4 separate regions of the Homo sapiens genome follow, and all the other regions are reported to be linked to region 1. Evidence: microRNA targets listed by miRTarBase, many of them from high-throughput screens and not tested one by one. Region 1 holds a microRNA gene; each other region holds the end of a gene's coding sequence.

The links. The annotated mature microRNA hsa-miR-106b-5p reads UAAAGUGCUGACAGUGCAGAU and lies in region 1 at 1,632-1,652, shown strand. An mRNA with a match to its seed (bases 2 to 7 or 8) in the 3' UTR can be bound and repressed. Matches are read on the target gene's strand: a 7mer-m8 pairs with bases 2 to 8, a 7mer-A1 pairs with bases 2 to 7 and ends in A, and an 8mer does both.
Region 2: miRTarBase lists CENPQ as a target of hsa-miR-106b-5p. Seed matches in the 3' UTR shown: 8mer at 838-845.
Region 3: miRTarBase lists GNPDA2 as a target of hsa-miR-106b-5p. Seed matches in the 3' UTR shown: 7mer-m8 at 562-568 and 7mer-m8 at 1,155-1,161.
Region 4: the mRNA of PLS1 is a reported target of hsa-miR-106b-5p. Seed matches in the 3' UTR shown: 7mer-A1 at 2,947-2,953 and 8mer at 2,644-2,651.

The regions. Positions count from the first base shown.
Region 1 is chr7:100,090,634-100,095,694 of GRCh38, reverse strand. MIR106B (microRNA 106b) reads left to right here and starts at 1,621; the gene lies at 1,621-1,702. COPS6 (COP9 signalosome subunit 6) reads right to left here. Exons shown (of 10, transcript NM_006833.5): 5 at 5,041-5,061; 6 at 4,746-4,793; 7 at 4,543-4,657; 8 at 4,365-4,457; 9 at 4,175-4,275; 10 at 3,508-4,046. The coding sequence ends at 3,906. MCM7 (minichromosome maintenance complex component 7) reads left to right here. Exons shown (of 15, transcript NM_005916.5): 12 at 225-308; 13 at 1,354-1,522; 14 at 2,294-2,403; 15 at 2,562-2,967. The coding sequence ends at 2,763. It overlaps MIR25 (microRNA 25), which reads left to right and starts at 2,052; the gene lies at 2,052-2,135. It also overlaps MIR93. RefSeq lists enhancers at 1-194, 3,975-4,269.
Region 2 is chr6:49,491,560-49,496,632 of GRCh38, forward strand. It overlaps CENPQ (centromere protein Q), which reads left to right. Exons shown (of 9, transcript NM_018132.4): 9 at 585-1,548. The coding sequence ends at 716. Among named protein-coding and RNA genes, the nearest start is that of GLYATL3, 5.8 kb to the right of the region's middle.
Region 3 is chr4:44,698,533-44,703,605 of GRCh38, reverse strand. It overlaps GNPDA2 (glucosamine-6-phosphate deaminase 2), which reads left to right. Exons shown (of 7, transcript NM_138335.3): 7 at 464-1,811. The coding sequence ends at 525. It overlaps GUF1 (GTP binding elongation factor GUF1), which reads right to left. Exons shown (of 17, transcript NM_021927.3): 17 at 2,678-5,062. The coding sequence ends at 4,925. Among named protein-coding and RNA genes, the nearest start is that of GUF1, 23 kb to the right of the region's middle.
Region 4 is chr3:142,711,181-142,716,253 of GRCh38, reverse strand. PLS1 (plastin 1) reads right to left here. Exons shown (of 16, transcript NM_001145319.2): 15 at 4,629-4,753; 16 at 2,590-4,382. The coding sequence ends at 4,247. Among named protein-coding and RNA genes, the nearest start is that of TRPC1, 10 kb to the left of the region's middle.

The sequences.
Region 1 (5,061 bases):
ATTCCACGCTCCTGGAAACCCCAGAGCCTCCCCTTTGCAGCAGGGGCTGGTCCATGGTTCTCAGGGAAATGGTGGGTTGGGGCTGAAATGCTGATGAGGATTTCCCGGGAAAGCTTGTCCCTCCTACACTGTGAGGAAGTGGCAGAGCCAAAGGAGGGACACCTAAGAGGACATGGGTGCGTAGCCCTAAAAAGGGTGTTCCTTCTAACCTTCCCTCTGTCCAGGTTGGCCCAGCACATCACCTATGTGCACCAGCACAGCCGGCAGCCCCCCTCCCAGTTTGAACCTCTGGACATGAAGCTCATGAGGTAGGAGAGCTGGGTGCGGGTGGGCAAACGTTGGCGTGGGCCGTGCGAGCCTCCTGAAAAAGTGCTTATTAGTCTTAGGGTGTGTGTTTTTCACACCACCACTTCCCGCTACAGACATGTCCAGAGCCTCAGATCAGCTTTTAAGTGGAAAATTCCACACTTCATATCATAGGGACACAGGAAATTTTGTTTCCTACACTATTTATTTTTTTTGAGACGAAGTCTTGCTCTGTCACCCAGGCTGGAGTGTAGTGATCTCAGCTCTCTGCAACCTCTGCCTCCCAGATTCAAGCGATTCTCCTGCCTCAGCCTCCTGAGTAGCTGGGATTACAGGCGCACGCCACCACGCCTGGTTAATTTTTTGTATTTTAGTAGAGAGCAGTTTCACCATGTTGGCCAGGATGCCCACCTCTGCCTCCCAAAGTGCTGGGATTACAGGCATGAACCACTGCTCCTGGCCCACAAAAATATTTTTAATAAAATTACCTTCAGGTTATGTGTATCAGTTGTATATGAAATACAGGTGAATTTCATGTTTAGACTGGAGTCCCATCCCCAAGCTATCTCATGCATATGCAAATACTCCAAAATTTAAAGTTTAAAACACCTGCTCCCAGGCATTCTGGATGATAATCTCTATCGCTATTTTCCCATGAGCCTCCAGTGTTCTTTCCGGTTTTTACTCCCTTTTAAATATTCTGTAAACAGTTCTCTTTAAATAAAATATATGTTTTGCCATGTCATGCGCTCAGAGGAGGGGTCTGGATCCTCTCTTAATGACAGACGGATTTGTCTTACAAAGGCCATTTTCCCGAAAAAAATAGGAAATAACTTGGAGGATACTGGTGGGGGCTATACGTTTGGTGAAATCCATCAGTGATATTCAAGCCAAGCAAATAATCACCCACTAATTTGTGTTTTCCACTTAAAATTCTTGGAGGGGACCATGTTAAATGGGGAGCCCTGGTACAGAAAACAACATGGGCTCATATTCACTCCCTTCCCCATCTCCCTCTTCTGCTTCCCCATGAACCTTCCCCCACAGGCGTTACATAGCCATGTGCCGCGAGAAGCAGCCCATGGTGCCAGAGTCTCTGGCTGACTACATCACAGCAGCATACGTGGAGATGAGGCGAGAGGCTTGGGCTAGTAAGGATGCCACCTATACTTCTGCCCGGACCCTGCTGGCTATCCTGCGCCTTTCCACTGCTCTGGTAAGTGCCCAAATTGCTGGAGGGCCATCTGTTTTGACCCTTAAAGGGGTAGCTCCTTACCGTGCTCTCATTGCCGCCTCCCCACCTCCCGCTCCAGCCCTGCCGGGGCTAAAGTGCTGACAGTGCAGATAGTGGTCCTCTCCGTGCTACCGCACTGTGGGTACTTGCTGCTCCAGCAGGGCACGCACAGCGTCCGTGGAGGGAAAGGCCTTTTCCCCACTTCTTAACCTTCACTGAGAGGGTGGTTGGGGTCTGTTTCACTCCATGTGTCCTAGATCCTGTGCTACAGACCTTCCTTTCTGTCCTCCCGTCTTGGACCTCAGTCCTGGGGGCTCCAAAGTGCTGTTCGTGCAGGTAGTGTGATTACCCAACCTACTGCTGAGCTAGCACTTCCCGAGCCCCCGGGACACGTTCTCTCTGCCAATTGTCTTCTTGGCTGAGCTCCCCAAGCTCCATCTGTCATGCTGGGGAGCCCAGTGGCGTTCAAAAGGGTCTGGTCTCCCTCACAGGACAGCTGAACTCCGGGACTGGCCAGTGTTGAGAGGCGGAGACTTGGGCAATTGCTGGACGCTGCCCTGGGCATTGCACTTGTCTCGGTCTGACAGTGCCGGCCCAACACTGCGGATGCTGGGGGGAGGGGGGATTCCACTCCTGTTTTGTGAGTAGGCGACCCATGGGCTGCCCAGCCTTAAAGCCAGAACAAGGGTGTCCCCTGACCTCGTTCCACTGCCCTCCTCCCGTTCCCATCTTTCCCCCCTACCTTCCCCTTAGGCACGTCTGAGAATGGTGGATGTGGTGGAGAAAGAAGATGTGAATGAAGCCATCAGGCTAATGGAGATGTCAAAGGACTCTCTTCTAGGAGACAAGGGGCAGACAGCTAGGTGAGTGGTTTAGTGAAGGACAAAGCTGTGTCACTTTGTCTTCTGTGGCCATGTGTCTGAGGTTGGCCTCAATTCTAACACTGGCCACCATTGTTCTCTGTTGATGTCGAGCATTCCTGTTTGTATCCTGACCTTACACACCCACTCATTTCCTTCAGGACTCAGAGACCAGCAGATGTGATATTTGCCACCGTCCGTGAACTGGTCTCAGGGGGCCGAAGTGTCCGGTTCTCTGAGGCAGAGCAGCGCTGTGTATCTCGTGGCTTCACACCCGCCCAGTTCCAGGCGGCTCTGGATGAATATGAGGAGCTCAATGTCTGGCAGGTCAATGCTTCCCGGACACGGATCACTTTTGTCTGATTCCAGCCTGCTTGCAACCCTGGGGTCCTCTTGTTCCCTGCTGGCCTGCCCCTTGGGAAGGGGCAGTGATGCCTTTGAGGGGAAGGAGGAGCCCCTCTTTCTCCCATGCTGCACTTACTCCTTTTGCTAATAAAAGTGTTTGTAGATTGTCATCTTCTAGCCTGGGCCTGACTTCCATTAAAACAGGGTTTTGTGCGTTTTTTAGATTCCTGTTCGTTTTTATGCTATTTCATCCACTCAGTAAATTACCTGAGTAAAGTGCATCTCCCTGCCAGGCCCCCAGTATAGACACTGGGGATGCGGCAAGGACTAAGCGGTCCCTGCTGTTTGGAGATACTTAAGATGGGGCTCCACTTTTTGAGCCCCCCGACTCCCTTATTTGGTCTTATACTGCCTGTGTGCAAGTCAGGCTCTGGGGATATGGCGCCAGTATGAAATGCAGGGTCTCTTGGTTTTTCCCCTTTTCTAGCAGACAGGTCATTACTTAGTTCCCAACTCCCACTCTAAAGCTCTGGTTAGCGGGTGATGAAAATCAGCACAAGTGATCACATACAGCAATCCCAACCTTTAGACCACTTCCTAGCTGCCTCTCCAAAATATGTAGTAAACGGTCATTGAGAAACTCTCCCTCCTGGTAATTCACAGTGCCCACAGGATCAAGGCTTGGACTTCTTTCTAATAAAAATCTGCTTACTATCCCTTCTTTTTTGCGTATGTGAAAAACAAGTTAATTTAGCTCAGGAAAGTAGTCAATTATCATGTTTATAAGGTTGGGTGGGCTAGGTAAGATGATGTAGAGGGTGACATTAAAGTGTAGAACAGAGACCACTTAGGTGGAAGCAGGCAGCCTTGGACTTTGCTAAAGACCAGTCCATGTGACTGACATGGGGTCACTTCAAATGGTAGTGCCTCCCTCACTGAAGAGCATCAGAAGGGCTTCTGAGCAAGGCCAGAATGAGCCTCGATGAACATCCAAGTTGACCAACCAGTGTGGTGCCTAACAGAGGACAGAGCCACCAGCAGGGGTGCTCAGGGGCTGCTCCCCTTTTATTAATGACAGCGGTTTCTCTCAAGGAAGTGTAGTGCCCTCCCCTTTGGGATAGTTGCCTGACCCCTGTCCATCAGCCCTTCAAGTACCCTCATCAGAAAAAGAGCCCGCGCATTCTCCTGCCGATGCCTTGTCGGTCGTAGAGGACATTGAACTTGTTCACAAACTGGTTCATGGTGTTGCACGTTTTGGTGATGGTGCCGAGGTAGGCCATGAGCCCCACGTCGTTGCATTGCTGGGAGGGAACAGAAAGGACCAGTTCCTCGGGATCCCTCGTGGCATGCCCGGGGAACAACAGTCCCCAGTCCTGCACGTGAAAGTGACAGCATAAGCCCCGCCTCCCCATCCGGGTTTTACACTCACATCATAAAAATCTGTCTTGAACTTGTCTGTGCTGAGCACCGGGAGACAGTGACACAGAGCATAGGCCTCCCGCAGGATCTCATGATTAAAGGGGACCTCTCCTAAAGGCACAAAAAGAGACTACATTAGTTTGGATGCTGTCACTTCCCCAGGAGGGAGAGGAAGAATGCCAGGGAAGCCCCTGTCCTACCCGCTTCAGAGGCCTTGACGTACTCCAAGATGAGCTTGACGCGGCTGTGCAGCATCTTGATGGCGCTGTGCTGTGCTATCAGGTGTTCAGCCACTGCAAGGGGATGAGGACAGGAGGAGGTTGAGACGGGATGTGGCCACACCTTCCAACCCCACTTCCAAGGAATCCCCTCCATTACCAGTGGAGTTCTCTCCACTGCCTGTTGCTGTCATTCGGGCTACGTGGTCTACACCAATGCGTTCCGCTTCCTCTGTGGCCAGAGTGTAGGTCAGCTCAGCAAACAGCATTGTGGCCTACAGGGCAAGGTAACCCACAAAGGGAGAATCAAAAGCAGGAAAGAGGCCAAGAGCAGGATCTGAGGGTTGAAGGGTAGGGTATTACCTCTCCATTGATTATATCAATGACAGACTCAAAAACGCTGACAGGAAGCTGTGAAGGAGACGGAGAAACCTGAACACTATATGCCAACATTTGGGCTAGCTGCTTTTACACATTTCCTCTCATCTTCCCAAGAAACCAATGAAGTAGGGATTACCTCCTTTCACAGTTTGGAGATTAAATGACTAAGCCAGAGTCACAGCTGGTAAGTGGCATCTGGCATTCCCCAATAGAGGAGTGTCACACAGTAAAAGGTATAGCGACAATCATGACAGAGTAGGCATGGAGTATTACTCACATCTGTGTGCTTGGTCATAGG
Region 2 (5,073 bases), not on the chromosome of region 1:
CATTGTAGTATAAATGTTTGTAGCATTGGAAAGTCTTCATGTTTTCTCAAGAAGTAATTTGAAATTTTCCTATTGGCTGGGCACAGTGGCTCACACCTGTAATCCCAGCACTTTGGGAGGCCAAGGCAGGCGGATTGCCTGAGGTCAGGAGTTCGAGAACAGCCTGACCAACATGGAGAAACCCCATCTCTACTAAAAATACAAAATTAGCCAGGTGTGGTGGCACATGCCTGTAATCCCAGCTATTCGGGAGGCTGAGGCAGGAGAATTGCTTGAACCTGGGAGCTGGAGGTTGCAGTGAGCCAGGACTGCGCCATTGTACTCCAGCCTGGGCAAGAAGAGCAAAACTCCACCTCAAAAAAACAAAAACAAACAAACAAACAAATCCTATCATTTACCAGTGGTGAAAGGAGCAGGATGGGGAGAGGGAGAGATAGATTTGAAAGAAGAATGGCGATTCGTTGACAATTATTGAAGTTGGATGATAGATACTTAAGGTTTATTTTACTGTTCTCTCTAACATACATTTGAGATTTCTCATAATAAAATGTTAACAACTACATTTAATACTATCTTTCCCACAGAAAGAAATTTTGGCGCTAATTCCAAACCAGAATGCTCTTCTAAAGGACTTGGATATTCTTCATAATTCATCACAGATGAAGAGCATGTCAACCTTCATTGAAGAAGCCTATAAGAAACTGGATGCATCTTAAAGAGTGTTTTTTTTTTAGATTGTTCCATATTAATTTAATGTTCGTGAATTTGTAAAACTGTTAACCTATGATTATATGTACAGAGGCTAAGGCTTCTGCAGGATTTATTATCTCCTGATATGCACTTTAAAATTAGTCTTTGTAGTTCTATCATTAGCATCTAATGTAGTTCTGAAGACTGTTTTTAGCAGTTGCCAAATCTAGGAAACTAACATTTATATTGCTGTATCTATAAGTATTTGCCTAAAACCATAAAATAGGAATTGCCTTAAGGATCTAGTAGTTTATAATGCCTGAATGGAACTCATTTATTGGTTAACAGCTCATATCAGGAGCTGTGATAAGTAAGTGTTTACATACACTGTCTAGTGCATAAAAACCTTAGTGTTTGCTATCATTCATTCTGTAGCCAATGGCTTACAGTTTCTGTCTGGTCATCTGGAACTTGAAAAATCCTCAAATGCCTTCACTCTTTTACCTAACTCCCTAGTCTTTTTGGGAAGTAGTTAAGATATGCCTGCTATCTTTAACTTTGGAGGTAGTATCAAAATTTTACTTCTTTGGTTGTTTAGTGAATTAATGTTGAATATTTTCTACTGTCATCAAAACATATTCCCAAAAAGTATTAAAAAGGAACCTTAGCACATTTATTTTATTAAAACAAGAAAACCCAAAATATATAAACCTTTTCTTATTATGATAATAAGCTTATATATGTGAATAAGTTATAACCTAGTGTATAAAAAATTATTTCTAACAAACTACAGTATACTGTCTTGGGTTTTTTTTTTTTTTTTTAGTCTGTAAAATAAAATGACTGCAATTACTTTTTTATGTGACCTATAATATCAGTTAATTTGGGAGATGCCATAATTCTGTTAACACCCTTCAGGCAGAGACCACTGGCAACAAACCTGTAGTTAAACAAGTTGGGTTTTCAGTGTAGTGAGGAGATCACACATGAGGACCCTGGGGCAGCTCAAGAAAAGGGTCACAAGCAATATCCTCATAGGAATAATGGTAAAGAAGGCCTATTAATAGATTTTGGAGGAAAATAAAATCTCAAAGAAAAACCTGGCAAAGTGACTAAAAGTAAAGATTATTACAAAATGTCTTAAAAACCCTTCACTTGGAAACTTAAAGCTTCATGTTTTTAGAATGAGTAGTAGAGCCCTAACTCAGTGATTTTTAACACTAATGTTATAGTAGCTTTTGGTGGTGGGGGAGGAATTATGTATGCCATTTCTCTCAGGGCATCTGTTTAACAGATAACTGATAGTTAACTGGGATTTTAACTTACCATTGTTGCTGAGTGATACAGTTCTTCACCCTGTGTGAACTGGCCATACTACTCTTGTAGCTTTGAAGAGTTTATAATCTAACTTTAAGAGATCTACAATATCTTCTGGTAGGTAGCATCCAATCCAAAACATACACAGTATTTTCTTTAAATAAGACTGCATTTTGGTGTACTCTTTGGAAAGAATTTAAGAATTAATTACAGATCTGTTATGGTTTGCCTAGGGTTTATTTGGCCCCACCAACCTCATGTTGAAATTTGATCCCCAATATTGGAAGCGGGGCCTGGTGGGAGTTGTTTAGATCATGGCGTGGATCGCTCATGAATGGCGTGGTGCCATAGATGCTGGTGCCATGCTTCTTGTACAGCCTGCAGAAACATGAGCCAAATCTCTTCATTAATAAATTACCCAGCCTTAAATATTCCTTTATAGCAACACTAAACATACTAAGAAAATTGGTATTCAGGAGTGAGGCATTGCTCTAAAGATGCCTGAAAATGTGGGAGTAGCTTTTGAACTGGGTAATAGGCAGAGGTTGGAAGAGTTTGGAGGGTTCAGGAGAAAACAGGGAAGACAAGGGAAAGTGTAGAACTTCTTAGAGATTGGTTAAGTAGTTGTGTACCAAAATGCTTATAGAAAAAGAGACAGCAAAGGTCATACTGAGGAAGCCTTAGATGGAAATGATGAACTTATAAGTTACTGAAGCAAAAGTCACACTTGTTACACCGTAGCAAAGAACTTGTCTGCATTGTGTCCATGCTCTAGGGCTTTATGGAAGGCTTCATTTAAGAGATGGCCTAGGGTATCTGGGAAAAGAAATTTCTAACCAGCAAAGTGCTCAGGCTGCTGCATGGTTACTTCTAACTGCTTACAGTAGAGACCAGAGGAAAATTGGAAAATGTGCAGCCTTGCCTTGTGTTAGAGAAGGAAAGAAGAGTGTTTTTAGGAGAGGAATCTAAGAGTATGACCAAGCAGCAGCAATAGTTTGCTAAAGAGATGAGCATGACTAAAAAGGGCCAGGTGCTAATAAGACTATGGAAAAAATGTCTCAAAGCTATTTCAGAAATCTTTGCCACCCCTCCCATCACAGATTAAGAAGTTTAGAATGAAAGAATGGCTTTTTGATGGGGCAGGTGATACTGCTCCCCACACCCCAGCGGCACCAGCTCAAAGGGCCTCAGGCTGCTGCTCTGGAAGGTGTACCCAGTAAGCCTTGGAGACTTCCATGTGGTGTTAAGTCTGCAAGCATGCAGAATGCAAGAGTAGTGGAGACTTGGCAGCTTCCACTTACATTTGAGAGGATGTATTAGAAAGCCTGGGTGCCCAGAAAGAAGGCTGCCACAGGGTCTGAGAGCCTCTACTAGAGAAGTGCCTAGTGGAGCAGATGGAGCAGGGGCACCACTCTCCAACCTCAGAATGGTAGAGCCACCAACAGCTTACAATCTCAGCCTGGAAGAGCTGCAGGTATTGGATTCCAACCCACGAGAGCAGCTACGTGGGCTGCACCCAGCAAAGCCATGGGGATGGGGATGCCTGAGGCTCTGGAACCCACCCCTTGAACCAGTGTTCTTAGGATGCGGGACATGGAGTCAAAGCAGATTATTTTGGAGCTTTAATATTTAATATCTGTCCTGATAGGTTTGGGACTCACATGAGGCCTATTACCCCTTTCTTCTGGCCTATTCCTCCCTTTTGGAATGGGAATGTCTGCACCACCACTGTATCTTGGAAGTAAATAACTTCTTTTTTTATTTTACAGGTTCACAGTTGTAAGGAACTTGCCTTGAGTCTCAAATGAGACTTTAGACTTTTGAGTTGATGCTGGAACAAGTTAAGACTTTGGGGGATGGAATAATTGTATTTTGCAATGCAAGAAAGACATGAGATTTGTTTTTCATGCCACCAAATCTTATGTTGAAATTTGATGCCCAATATTGGAGGTGGGGCCAGATGGGAGAAATTTGGGAACAGATCCCCCATGAATGGCTTGGTGACATTCTCCCAGGAGTAAATAAGTTCTCTTGGTTCCCATGAGAACTGCTTGTTAAAAAGCCTAGCATCTCCCCATCTCTTTCTTGTTTTCTCTCTCACCACATGATCTGCAAATGCCAGCTCCCCTTCACATTCCACCATGAGTAGAAGCAGCCTGAGTCCCTGGCCAGAAGCAGATGCTGGCACCGTGCTTTTTGTGCAGCCTACAGAACGATGAGCCAAATAAATCTCTTTTGTTTATAAAATACCCAGCCTCAGGTATTCCTTTATGGCAACACTAAAGAGACCCAAGACAAGATCCAAATAAAATTAAACTGCCGGGCGCAGTGGCTCACACCTGTAATCTCAGCACTTTGGGAGGCTGAGGCGGGCAGATCACCTGAGGTCAGGAGTTCGAGACCAGCCTGGCCAACATGGTGAAACCCCGTCTCTACTAAAAATACCAAAATTAGCCGGGCGCAGTGGCGGGCTCCTCTAATCAGGAGGCTGAGGCAGGAGACTCGCGTGAACCCGGGAGGCAGAGATTGCAGTTAGCCCAGATAGTGACACTACACTCCAGCCTAGGTGACAGAGTGAGACTCCATCTCAAAAAAATAAAAATAAAGAAATAAATAAACTTTGACTATACATGGTCCCAATAATTCAAATAACAGTCCTCCTCTGTAGTGACCTCAGCCATCTAAGTTCTCCCATGCACAGCCCATGCCAACTATGATACATCTCTTCTCTAGTGACTGATAAATGCCAATGTCAGAAACTTAAACAATAACAAAAAAAATACACTTTTGAGATAGAGGATATATTGTATTAAAATGTAGCATATGATAAAGATGGCATTTCAAATGAAATACAGAAAAATATTTATTAATAAATGGTCTTCATAAAACTGGCTAACTACATAATGGAGGGTGAGAGGATGTTTAATATTCCTACTTTATGCCTAAGTACATTCCCACTAAATAAAGTTAAATATAAAAATAGAAGCTAAAAAGAAAGAAATGAACAGTGGATGTCAGGGTAGCAAATGCCCTATTATGCATATAAGCAAAAGTAAAATCATGAAA
Region 3 (5,073 bases), not on the chromosome of region 1:
CAAACTATTGGAAAGTAATTTACCAGACGAATGGATAGGGTAATGTATTAAGAGTGAGACAGCAGTTCTGAGCCCCTGGCTGGAGTCTAGTAGAGGAACTGCCAGAGGATCAATATCAACATAGACTTTTAGATATAATTAAAACCTATTATCTAAGTCAGTATTCAAATTTGTCATGCTTAATCTCTTTGAAGACAAGAAATGCTCTTCTGGTTACTCCCAAAGTACCTGTACACATTCTAGATCTGCACTGTTACATAATTATAAATTGGTATTTGCTAGGTAGATAAAACTTAAGACATTCTGAAACATTTCTATTTGTACTTTTTCAATAAACTTGACTATATCAAGATGGGAACTAAACAGGCTTACTGTGTCTTATAAAAAATACTTTGTTGTCTAAAGTAAATGAGATAGTTCAAAATTAATAAAAACAACTAGAACTGTGCTTTTTTTCTTTAAGGTCTAATGCATGTGCACAATAAACTTGTGGATCCACTATTCAGTATGAAAGATGGAAACTGAAGGAGACTGGAGCAAAATTCAGCTTGAATGAACAGAGCACTTTTTACTAAGTAGTAGATGAATTTTCAGCTATGCAATATGACAAAACATGGGGAATTTTGAAGATTGTCATTTTTTCATTCGAGTCTCTATGTTAAACATTCCATATTTTGAATATTTATATCTTGTACTTGGGTTTAAGAGAAGTAGCTGGCTCTCAAGATTGACTGGCTATTTATTATAAAGTACTGAAGTCACATAGCCACCTATAAAACAGCATAGAAATGTCTGCCTGTTTAAAAAGTCATTTTAAAGGTAGAGTGTCCACATCAGGCACCATTTGTGATATGACTCCAGTGGCGTATATTTCATTTTTTAATGACAAGACACTCCAAACCTTTCAGATAACAAACTATCATTGCAGACCTTCACTTTTGGAATGCAATCTTTATATTTTCTGTGCATCACACACATGCTTTTCTGCACGTGGTTGCCTTAGTCATCTTCCTACAGCACCATCTAGACATCAAAAATTGTGCTATATATCATTGGTAAAGGAAATTTGAAGAGATGACAGTGCCTAAAAGTACAGTTTACATCCTTTTGGAAAGTATGTGTAAGTGCATGTTTTTTGTGCACCTTCTTCTATAGCACTTTTTTACAAATATCTTATTTTTATTTAACGACTTGGGTTCATGTCCCTAATATAAGTATCTTGACAATTATGAGCTTTATACCTAGCAAGCCACTTCAGGAAATTCTTTTGGAGAATATTTTCTGATTATTGTTAAACTTAATATACAATTAGCTTTATTCCTTATAAAATGTCTAAAAGAATAATACGAAGTATATATAAAAGGAATTACTGTAAACTACATTGCCATAGCAATTTACATAAAAGTATATTGTTTTTTATCTTTAACTCAAATAAAGCGTGTAATAAATAAGTTATCTAAATTTCCAGAAGTGAACCTGAAGAATACATGCATTCGACTCCCAACAATTATAGTACATGTGAACCTGCATTCATTTTGGGTTTGTTACCATCATGCATTAGGAGAGTTAGGTTAAAAGATGTCTTTGCCTCTGTGGGGAGCAAAAAAATGCTCCTTTTGCTTATTTTGCATTTCATAAGCCCACCTGGTAGAAGAAGCCTTACTTATCTGCTTGTCTATGTGATTAAAATGTAGTTTCTTAAAATATTAAAATAGCAAATAAATTAATGAAATAAAATTGGTAATAGGGTTTTATGGTTAAAAGTGGGGGATGGGGTAAATTATGCTGCTTTAATTCCAGATGATGTTTTAATAGCCTTATAAATGTTTTTTAAATAACTAGTGAGTAACACTCCACTTACACTTCCAGTAATAAGAATCATTTACTACAAACTATGCTGACTACCTTAGAAAGTCATACAGCATCACAGTGAAAAAGCTAAAGGTACCTGTTGTGCTACATGATTCACCAGTAATTTCTCTGCTTTAAAGGTCTAAAAATTCTCCTTTCCATTTTCCTTCCCTTGATGTTAGGGGCTTAGTTGAGGTTCATGTACTCAAGCTCCTCCACAAGCTGAGGAGCGAAAACTCTGGCCATTTTCATTCCTGCTTTCATTCCCTAAATTGAGGAGCTAAGCTGCTGTTAGGCAAAGAACCTAGCTTTTTCAAGAAACCAACCACTGAATCCCAGCTCTGTCAGGGAAATAAAAAAGTCTCAGCTACTTCCCCAAAATTTTTACATAGATTGAATAAGGGAAGCATACATAGCTCAGCACAGTGGTTGTCACATATTAAAGTCAATAAACGGTGCTATTTTAATATTGATAACAGTGTTTAAACATATTTCAGTGTTTGCTAAAATCTTAGTAATATTAAGTCCTCTGAGGAATGCACTTATAAAGCACACAACTCCAAATCACTAAAGTCATCTGACTGGGAAAGCGGGAAGGGGAAAGAAATTAAGCTTACAGAAAATGCTTTTTTGTACTACAACTAAAACTATAACTAAAACTACTTTTTTGTACTACTATAACTAAAGAGTCATAGGTTAAAAAAAGGTAAAATTAGTCTGAATAAAAAAGACTAAGACTGGTAAATTATTAAATAGCAAGCACATAGTACATATTACGTTCCAAGAACCAATTTGTAACTTATCCTTTGGCAGTGATAGAACAGAACACTTTTACAATTTTTTAATTTCAAATACTGTCATTTTCAAAATACTACTGTCATGGTCTTTCAGATTTCATCTGTTTTTATCAGAACCTGGAAGAGGGAGGGAAGATACATAAGATGATAATGTATGTATCTAGGACTATATCACAGGCTACTTCTACACATGATTTTAAGTAAATCTCCACTTAATTTATAATTAAAATGATTTCACAATAACTGTAAGCTCAAAATATCTGAGACAGCTCTCAAGTCAGTTTAGAAAGTTTATTTTCCCAGGGTTAAGGTGTGCCCATGACACAGCCTCAGGAGGTCCTCACCACATGTGCCCAAGGTGGTTGGGGCACAGCTTGGTTTTACACATTTTAGAGAGACATGAGACATCAATCAGTATGTGTAAGGTGTACATTGGTCTTGAAAGGCAGGACAACTTGAAGAGGGGCGGGGGCTTCAAGCATAGGCAGGTAAGAGAGAAAGGGTTGCATTTTTTTGAGTTTCTGATTAGCCTTTCACTGAATATACAATTTACATGTGAGAGGAGAGTAGAGGAATAGTCAGTTATACCTTAATCTGGCTTAGTGAAACATGAAACAGAGAAAGCAATCATTTATGCATTTGTTTCATGTGAAGACTTTGAGTTCTTTGTCCATAAGGAATTCCCTTGTGAGCAAATTTTATCTTTGTGGCTGTCTTATTTAGGAATAAAATGGGAGGCAGGTTTGCCTCAATCAGTTCCCAGCTTGACTTCCCTTTGGCTTAGTGGTTTTGAGATTTTTCTTTCATATAACCTTAGTATAAAATTCATCCTTGATAGTGTTTATCCCTAAAAGACATTTTCTTCATTCAATTCATTCAAGGTAGAAGATAAAAATCAATGGCTAAATGATGTTGTCTTGCTCTAATACAGTCTGCAGTCTGGTTTGTTCGTTGGCTGAATAAACATGGGAGCTGAGAGCTCTGGAGAAATACAGCCATTTACTGGCTGTGAAATCTCAAGTTAACTACTCTAAAATCGCTTCGATTATGAAATTTAGACAATAATTATTAAAATGTCATTATGAGTTCCTGGTAATACCAAACACCTGTCATTTTACACAAATGCGTTTTGAATGTCTGAAAGACAGCTCCTGCCCTTAATTTAGATGTAAACCATTTAGTTTCAAACTAACCACCTGATAAAATCTATAAACATTTTATCATTAACTAGAGCAGATGTCTGTTATTTGATGTCTATGTTATTTGAGTTTACTGTTTAATAAGTGAATTCATATCAATTAATCCTGCTAACAAATTTGACACTTAAGGTGATTCTGAAAATCCTTTAAACTTAAAGTAGATGGAATCTTAAGTATGGGGCCTTTTAGTGTCCGTAAAGAAAAACTGCATGCAACAAAATATAGCAGGTCCTCACTTGTTGAGATTCATGGAAATTGTGACTTTAAATGAAATGACATGGCTGGGCATGGTGGCTCACACCTGTAATCAGCACTTTGGGAGGCCACGGTGGGTGGATCACGAGGTCAGGAGTTCAAGACCAGCCTGGCCAACATGGTGAAACCCCGACTCTACTAAAGATACAAAAAATTAGCCGAGCATGGTGGTGCACGCCTGTAATGGAGGCTGAGGCAGGAGAATCTCTTGAACCCAGGAGGCAGAGGTTGCAGTGAGTCGAGATTGTGCCATTGCACTCCAGCCTGGGCGACAGGGCAAGACTCTGTCTCAAAAAATAAATAAAAATAAAATGAAATGACGCATAAACCAATTTTTTTTCCTCATCGATGTTACAAACCACTTAAGGAAATGACATCATTCAAGAACATTGTGCTACGTGTCATTTTGCTTAAAGTCAGTTTCTAAGAACCTTTCGATGGCATTTAAGGACTTAACTGTAGTTACAATTGAGTGCTTACTATGTGTCTTGCACCTCTGAATATTTAACGTATTACCTCATTTAATCTTCACAACAACAACTTATGTAGGTAGTAGTATAATCTCGATTTTACTGAAGAGGAAACAAAGGTTAATCTGGCCACGGTCACCTTACTAGTGAGTGGTTGGAACAGATATTTGAGAACAGGCAACATGGCTTCAAAATCTAAGCTCTTGCCTACCCACTAACTACTCCCTTTCAACGAAAGACTAGTAGGTTATTTGAACCTGAATACCCTGAAAGTAACAAGCAAATTTTATAATTTTCTTTCTGTTGTCAGCATATTACAAATTGCAATGAAAATTCTTTGTTTTCCCACCAATTATTTAGAAGATTGTGTTTTCAGAACTTTTATAAAAGCATCTTTTGGAACTTCAACGTTGCCAATTTTCCTCAGCTTTTTTTTCCCTTCTGCTTGTCTCTTCAAAAGCTTCATTTTTCGGGTAATATCACCACCATACTGAAAAATAT
Region 4 (5,073 bases), not on the chromosome of region 1:
CTGGCCTTTGAACTCCTAGGTTCAAGTGCCACCGCCCACCTTGGCCTCCCAAAGTGCTGGAATTACAGGCATGAGTCATCATACCCTGCCAAATAATTTATTTTTAACCAAACTTTTAAAGTATTATAACCATTATAGAGTTGCTGTTGTCTTCTGCTTTTAAAAGGTAATGGAGGAGAAACTGGAAATTCCGCCTCTTGAATAATTCCTGTTGCTTCCCATAATCATATAGAAAACTCTAAATTGTGCCTTTAAAGTTTTAGGTTTTTAAAAGAATACATAAATTTACTTCAGAGTATCTTATATTTGGAGGAAATACTCCCTATCCTGTTCAGGCTGGTATGTTCCATCCCTGTCTCAGCCAGCACGTTAACTCCCAAAATTTCCTAAATACAACTTTCTCATAATTCAAAGTCTTTGTTAGGTCTTTTCTAAGAGGCCTTAGCAGACCGTCTTTCCAAACATTTTCATGTATTTACTTCAAAACAGTTGATAATCTATTGAGTTTGTTTTCTGTCTTATCCCTAGTAGATGGTAAATCTTCCTCATTTTGTAATGTTTAATACAGTTCCAAGTTTATTTGGTGGAATGTCAAGATTGTTCCTGTAAATTTGTGGCCAGTGAACAGTGGCACATATTTGTATTTATGCGTGTGTGCTTACACTCTCTGTAGTGCAGCACAATTTTTAGTTAGTAGCAGAAAAACACTAACCCTGATGTACCCAAAACTTCGTGTTTGAGGGAAAAAATTTAGATGGCTCAGAACTATGTCGCACATGTGATATAGCAGGAGAGCAAGCGAGATAGAGCGCGATGTAGATATAGCTTCACTTTAATCCGAGGCATTTGCAAGTTGCTGGACCTAGATGATTCTTTATCCAGAGGACTCCCATAGGGGCTGGATTAATTTCTAAGACTGGGGAATCCCAACTTACTTTGGTAGATAATTCTAGGAGGCCTTTCAAAGTGCTGGGGGTGGGGGTGCTGTTCCTACTTCAAACTAAGCCAGTGTTGCAACTGCACCCTGTTCTTCACAAGTCTTTTTGGATCATCTCAGCTGCAGAAATCCTCTCTTACCTCTCTGATACACTTTTTGTTGTTTTTAAGAGACAGCATCTTGCTGTGTCACCCAGGCTGGAGTGCAATGGTGCAATCATAGCTCATCATAGTGTCGAAATCCCAGGCTCAAACAATCCTCCCACCTCAGCCTCCTGAGTAGCTAGGACTACAGGTGCACACCACCACACCCATCTAATTAAAAAAAAAAATTGAGGACTGGGCCCAGTGGCTCATGCCTGTAATCCTAGCACCTTGGGAGGCCGAGGCGGGCAGACCACTTGAGGTCAGGAGTTCAAGACCAGCCTGGCCAACATGGTGAAACCCTGTCTCTACTAAAAACACAAAAAAAAATTAGCCAGGCATGGTGACACACATCTGTAATCCCAGCTACTCAGGAGGATGAGGCACAAGAATCACTTGAACCCAGGAGGCAGAGGTTGCAGTGAGCCGAGATTGTGCCACTGCACTCCAGCCTGGACAAGAGAGAGAGACTCCGTCTCAATAAATAAATAAAATTTTGTAGCAAGAGTCTATGTTGCCCAGGTTGGTCTCAAACTCCTGGCCTCAAGCAGTCCTCCCACCTTGGCCTCCCGAAGTGCTGAGATTATAGGCATGAGCTACTGTGCCTGGCCTGGTACACTATTTATCCAGCATAAATTGGGGTATTTTAACATAATCTATGCAGCCTATCATCAGTTTTTTCTACACAGGTGATACAGAGACCAGTGGCAGAGTTATGATGAACAGTAGCATCCAAGATTCAGAAGCAGCATATTACTTCAAGCAGCTTACCCAAACCACATATACAAAAGAGCAGTCATGACTCCAGTCAGAGAAGAAAAAAAAAAATCCAGATTTAGATCTAGTCCTACAATACCCTAGACTCCATCTCCATCTCCAGACTCTGCCTCTCCCTCAGTACTCTCAGGTCATGTTCACCTGTTTGTCTTCTAGGATGCCTACAGGACTGCCTGCTTCAGGTTCTTTACATTTGTTCTCTCTGCTGAACACTTATAGCACAAATATCCTTAGAGAGACCTTCCCTGACCACCCAAATACAAATAATCTCCACTCCATTTCCCAAGTCAGTCTCTATCACATTACCTTATGTTATTTCTTCTACTGCATTATCACTGTCTAAAATTCCTATTTACGAATTGTCTCTCTACTAGGATATCATACATGGATGTGATACATGAGGTCAGGAGACTTCATCTGTATTTTTTTCAGATGAATCCCCAGTGTCTAGCATAGTATCTGGATCATAATAAATGATAAATTTGTGAATGGATTGATTCACCTGAATTATTTCAGCACAAACTAAATTGTAGTAATCACACAGTTGGTTTTTAATAATTCTTCATATTTAAGAACAAAAGAACTACCCTCATCTTCAAAGAAATCAGACACAATTTTTTTTTTGTTTTACTAACTCATTTAGGAATTCTTTTCTTTTCTGGAAAATAAGCTTATGCTAGACTAATTTTCAAGGCTGAATATTTTTCTTCAAATGAAATAAATATAAACACATTTCTATATACACAGCATTTTTATTAAATATACTCTGTGAGAAAAAGAACACCCTAAAGTGCCAGATTTCATGTAAATCCAATAACTTAGTAAATACAATGGTGAAAAAAAATCAGAGGGAAACATAATTTAAATAATCTTATAAAAGAGCAAGAACATATCTTAATCTTAAGAAAACAATCATCAAAATATAAAAGGGAAAGAAATCTCTTTTGTAGAAGAATATATTTCAAATTCCACCTGTTGATCATTTCATTTAAAAAATTCTATTCTAAACACATGGGCAGTCTCTCTTACCAATATATATATTTAAATCAATGGTAGAAAGGGAATTTAGACTACTCATTCACACTGAGATAAAGTGACATTTTTGTTGCACAACAGTATTGCTCACTGGCACTAACAGTGGAAGATGGAGAAAGTAGATTTCTGGATTCAATTGTTAGCAGCAGAAATGGACTAATGCTAAAAATTTAGAAAAAAATAGTCCAAGCTGTAGCGATTTCCAAGTAATACAAACATTAACCAAACATTGCCAATTTGTAACGGGCTGTGAAAAACATATGAAAATACTCTACATTGAATACTAGCTTTATGTTACTTTCTATTAAAGATATTCAGTGGGCATATTCTAAATTATATAGGGCTTCTATAGAGACCTAAACTAGCAAGTATAATATGAAGCTAACAGGACAGTGTCAGCATATCTTGGGATGTTCTAGCCAATGTTTGGCTACAAGTATTTGGAAGGGGTCAAATAACTATATGCACATTCAAAATGAATACTTATAAAAAGAAATCTTAATGTATCAGATATCCACAGACTGAAAAGTGTTACACATGTTGTGGGGGGAAAATACTGATGGTTGGCTGAATGACCAATTAAACATACCACTTATGAAAAGCTGGGTGATTCAGGTGCAAAAAAATATATATGCACACATATCTCTCTAATAACATCCTACCAACATATATATGTTGCATGACATAGTTAAAGCTGTGTTACCAAACTAGGATGTGTAAAGTATCAATGTAGTTAAAATTAAATTTTAAGTAAAAAGCTGCTGCTACTTAAACAAGAGAGTGAACTTTGGGGTTTATTCAAGAATTAGTTCTCATATATAAAAAAGTTTGATATTAATAAACAATTCTGGTCACCATAAGGTTTTAGACAGTATAGAAACTTACAGAAAAGTGTTTTTGGACCACTTTAAATAGTTGGAGGAAGCAAATAAAAGGATTAAACTGGATTATGAGTATGAATGCATTTATGATCAAAATTAACACACCAAAAAAATCAAACCACATTTCACAGCAGAACCTGCAAAAACGTTTGTATTCATCTTTTTTGAACCATAAAAAAGAATGATTTAGTCTTGTCTAATACGACTTTTAAGCAACAAAAATAATTTAATCATGAAGTATCAGCTTGATTATGAATATATTCTATTATCTGTATCAGTTGGTAAATTAACTGTGTTACCCAAAAAGGCTGACCAGCTCTAACTAGTATGAACAGGATATTGAATTCATTAATGAATATATAACTATTTTGAGCATACAAATAATCTCTGGTTTTACACCCACTACATTTCAGAATCCTGTAAACTGTGAGGCATACAATATGTTTAATGTGGCAGAAAATCATATGAAATGATTATTTTATTCTGTTCAGTCCTTTTCCCATTAAGCATGCAAACACCGTCATAACCATCTTTGGTTTCACTTCTACGAGGTCATCAGGTAATGCATATATCCGGGCACCGATCTTTCGAGCAACTGAAATGGCGTATCTTGAAGAGACAAGAAAAATATCTTGGTGTTATCCACTGTGTTTTCACTTAACATATTTTAACAAAAGAGTGAAATATTTTGACAAGATTAGTTTTACGAAAAGGTTAAGTTTGTGAGTCTTAAATCTAAGACTCACATATAAGTTATATTTAAAAATATGAATTTTAAGGGCATAGTAACTTTTCCTATAAGGATTTTAGAGAATTAAAGGGCCATGTATTGTAATATAAACCATAAAGGCTTACTTAGCATTGTTCAGCTTGTCCTCATCAGATAAGTTTTCTCTCCTGATCATTTCTTGACGAACTGCATTTGGTGCAATGGCATCTATTAAATCTAGGACAGGTAAACTTGTGCTTATAGATTTATCCTAGAAAATAAAGCATAGATGAACATTCATAAACATCTGACCTTTAATTTTCATTATTTTCAGACTCTTCTGATCATATAACTGAAGGCAATCTACAAATTCTTTGTACTTAACCTAACGTTCAGCTTTTCTGCAACCAGCACACATAAATAAACCCTTTAAAATATACTTTTCCTTGAATCTTTATATATAATATAGAGTTGTCACCATATCTGAATAAGGTTTGTGGACATGATAGCTCCTAAGTATGCTAACTATAGTGTCCATTCTGTAAAAAATACAAAACTTTTGAAAGGGAATAGATGAATTTTTAATTAACA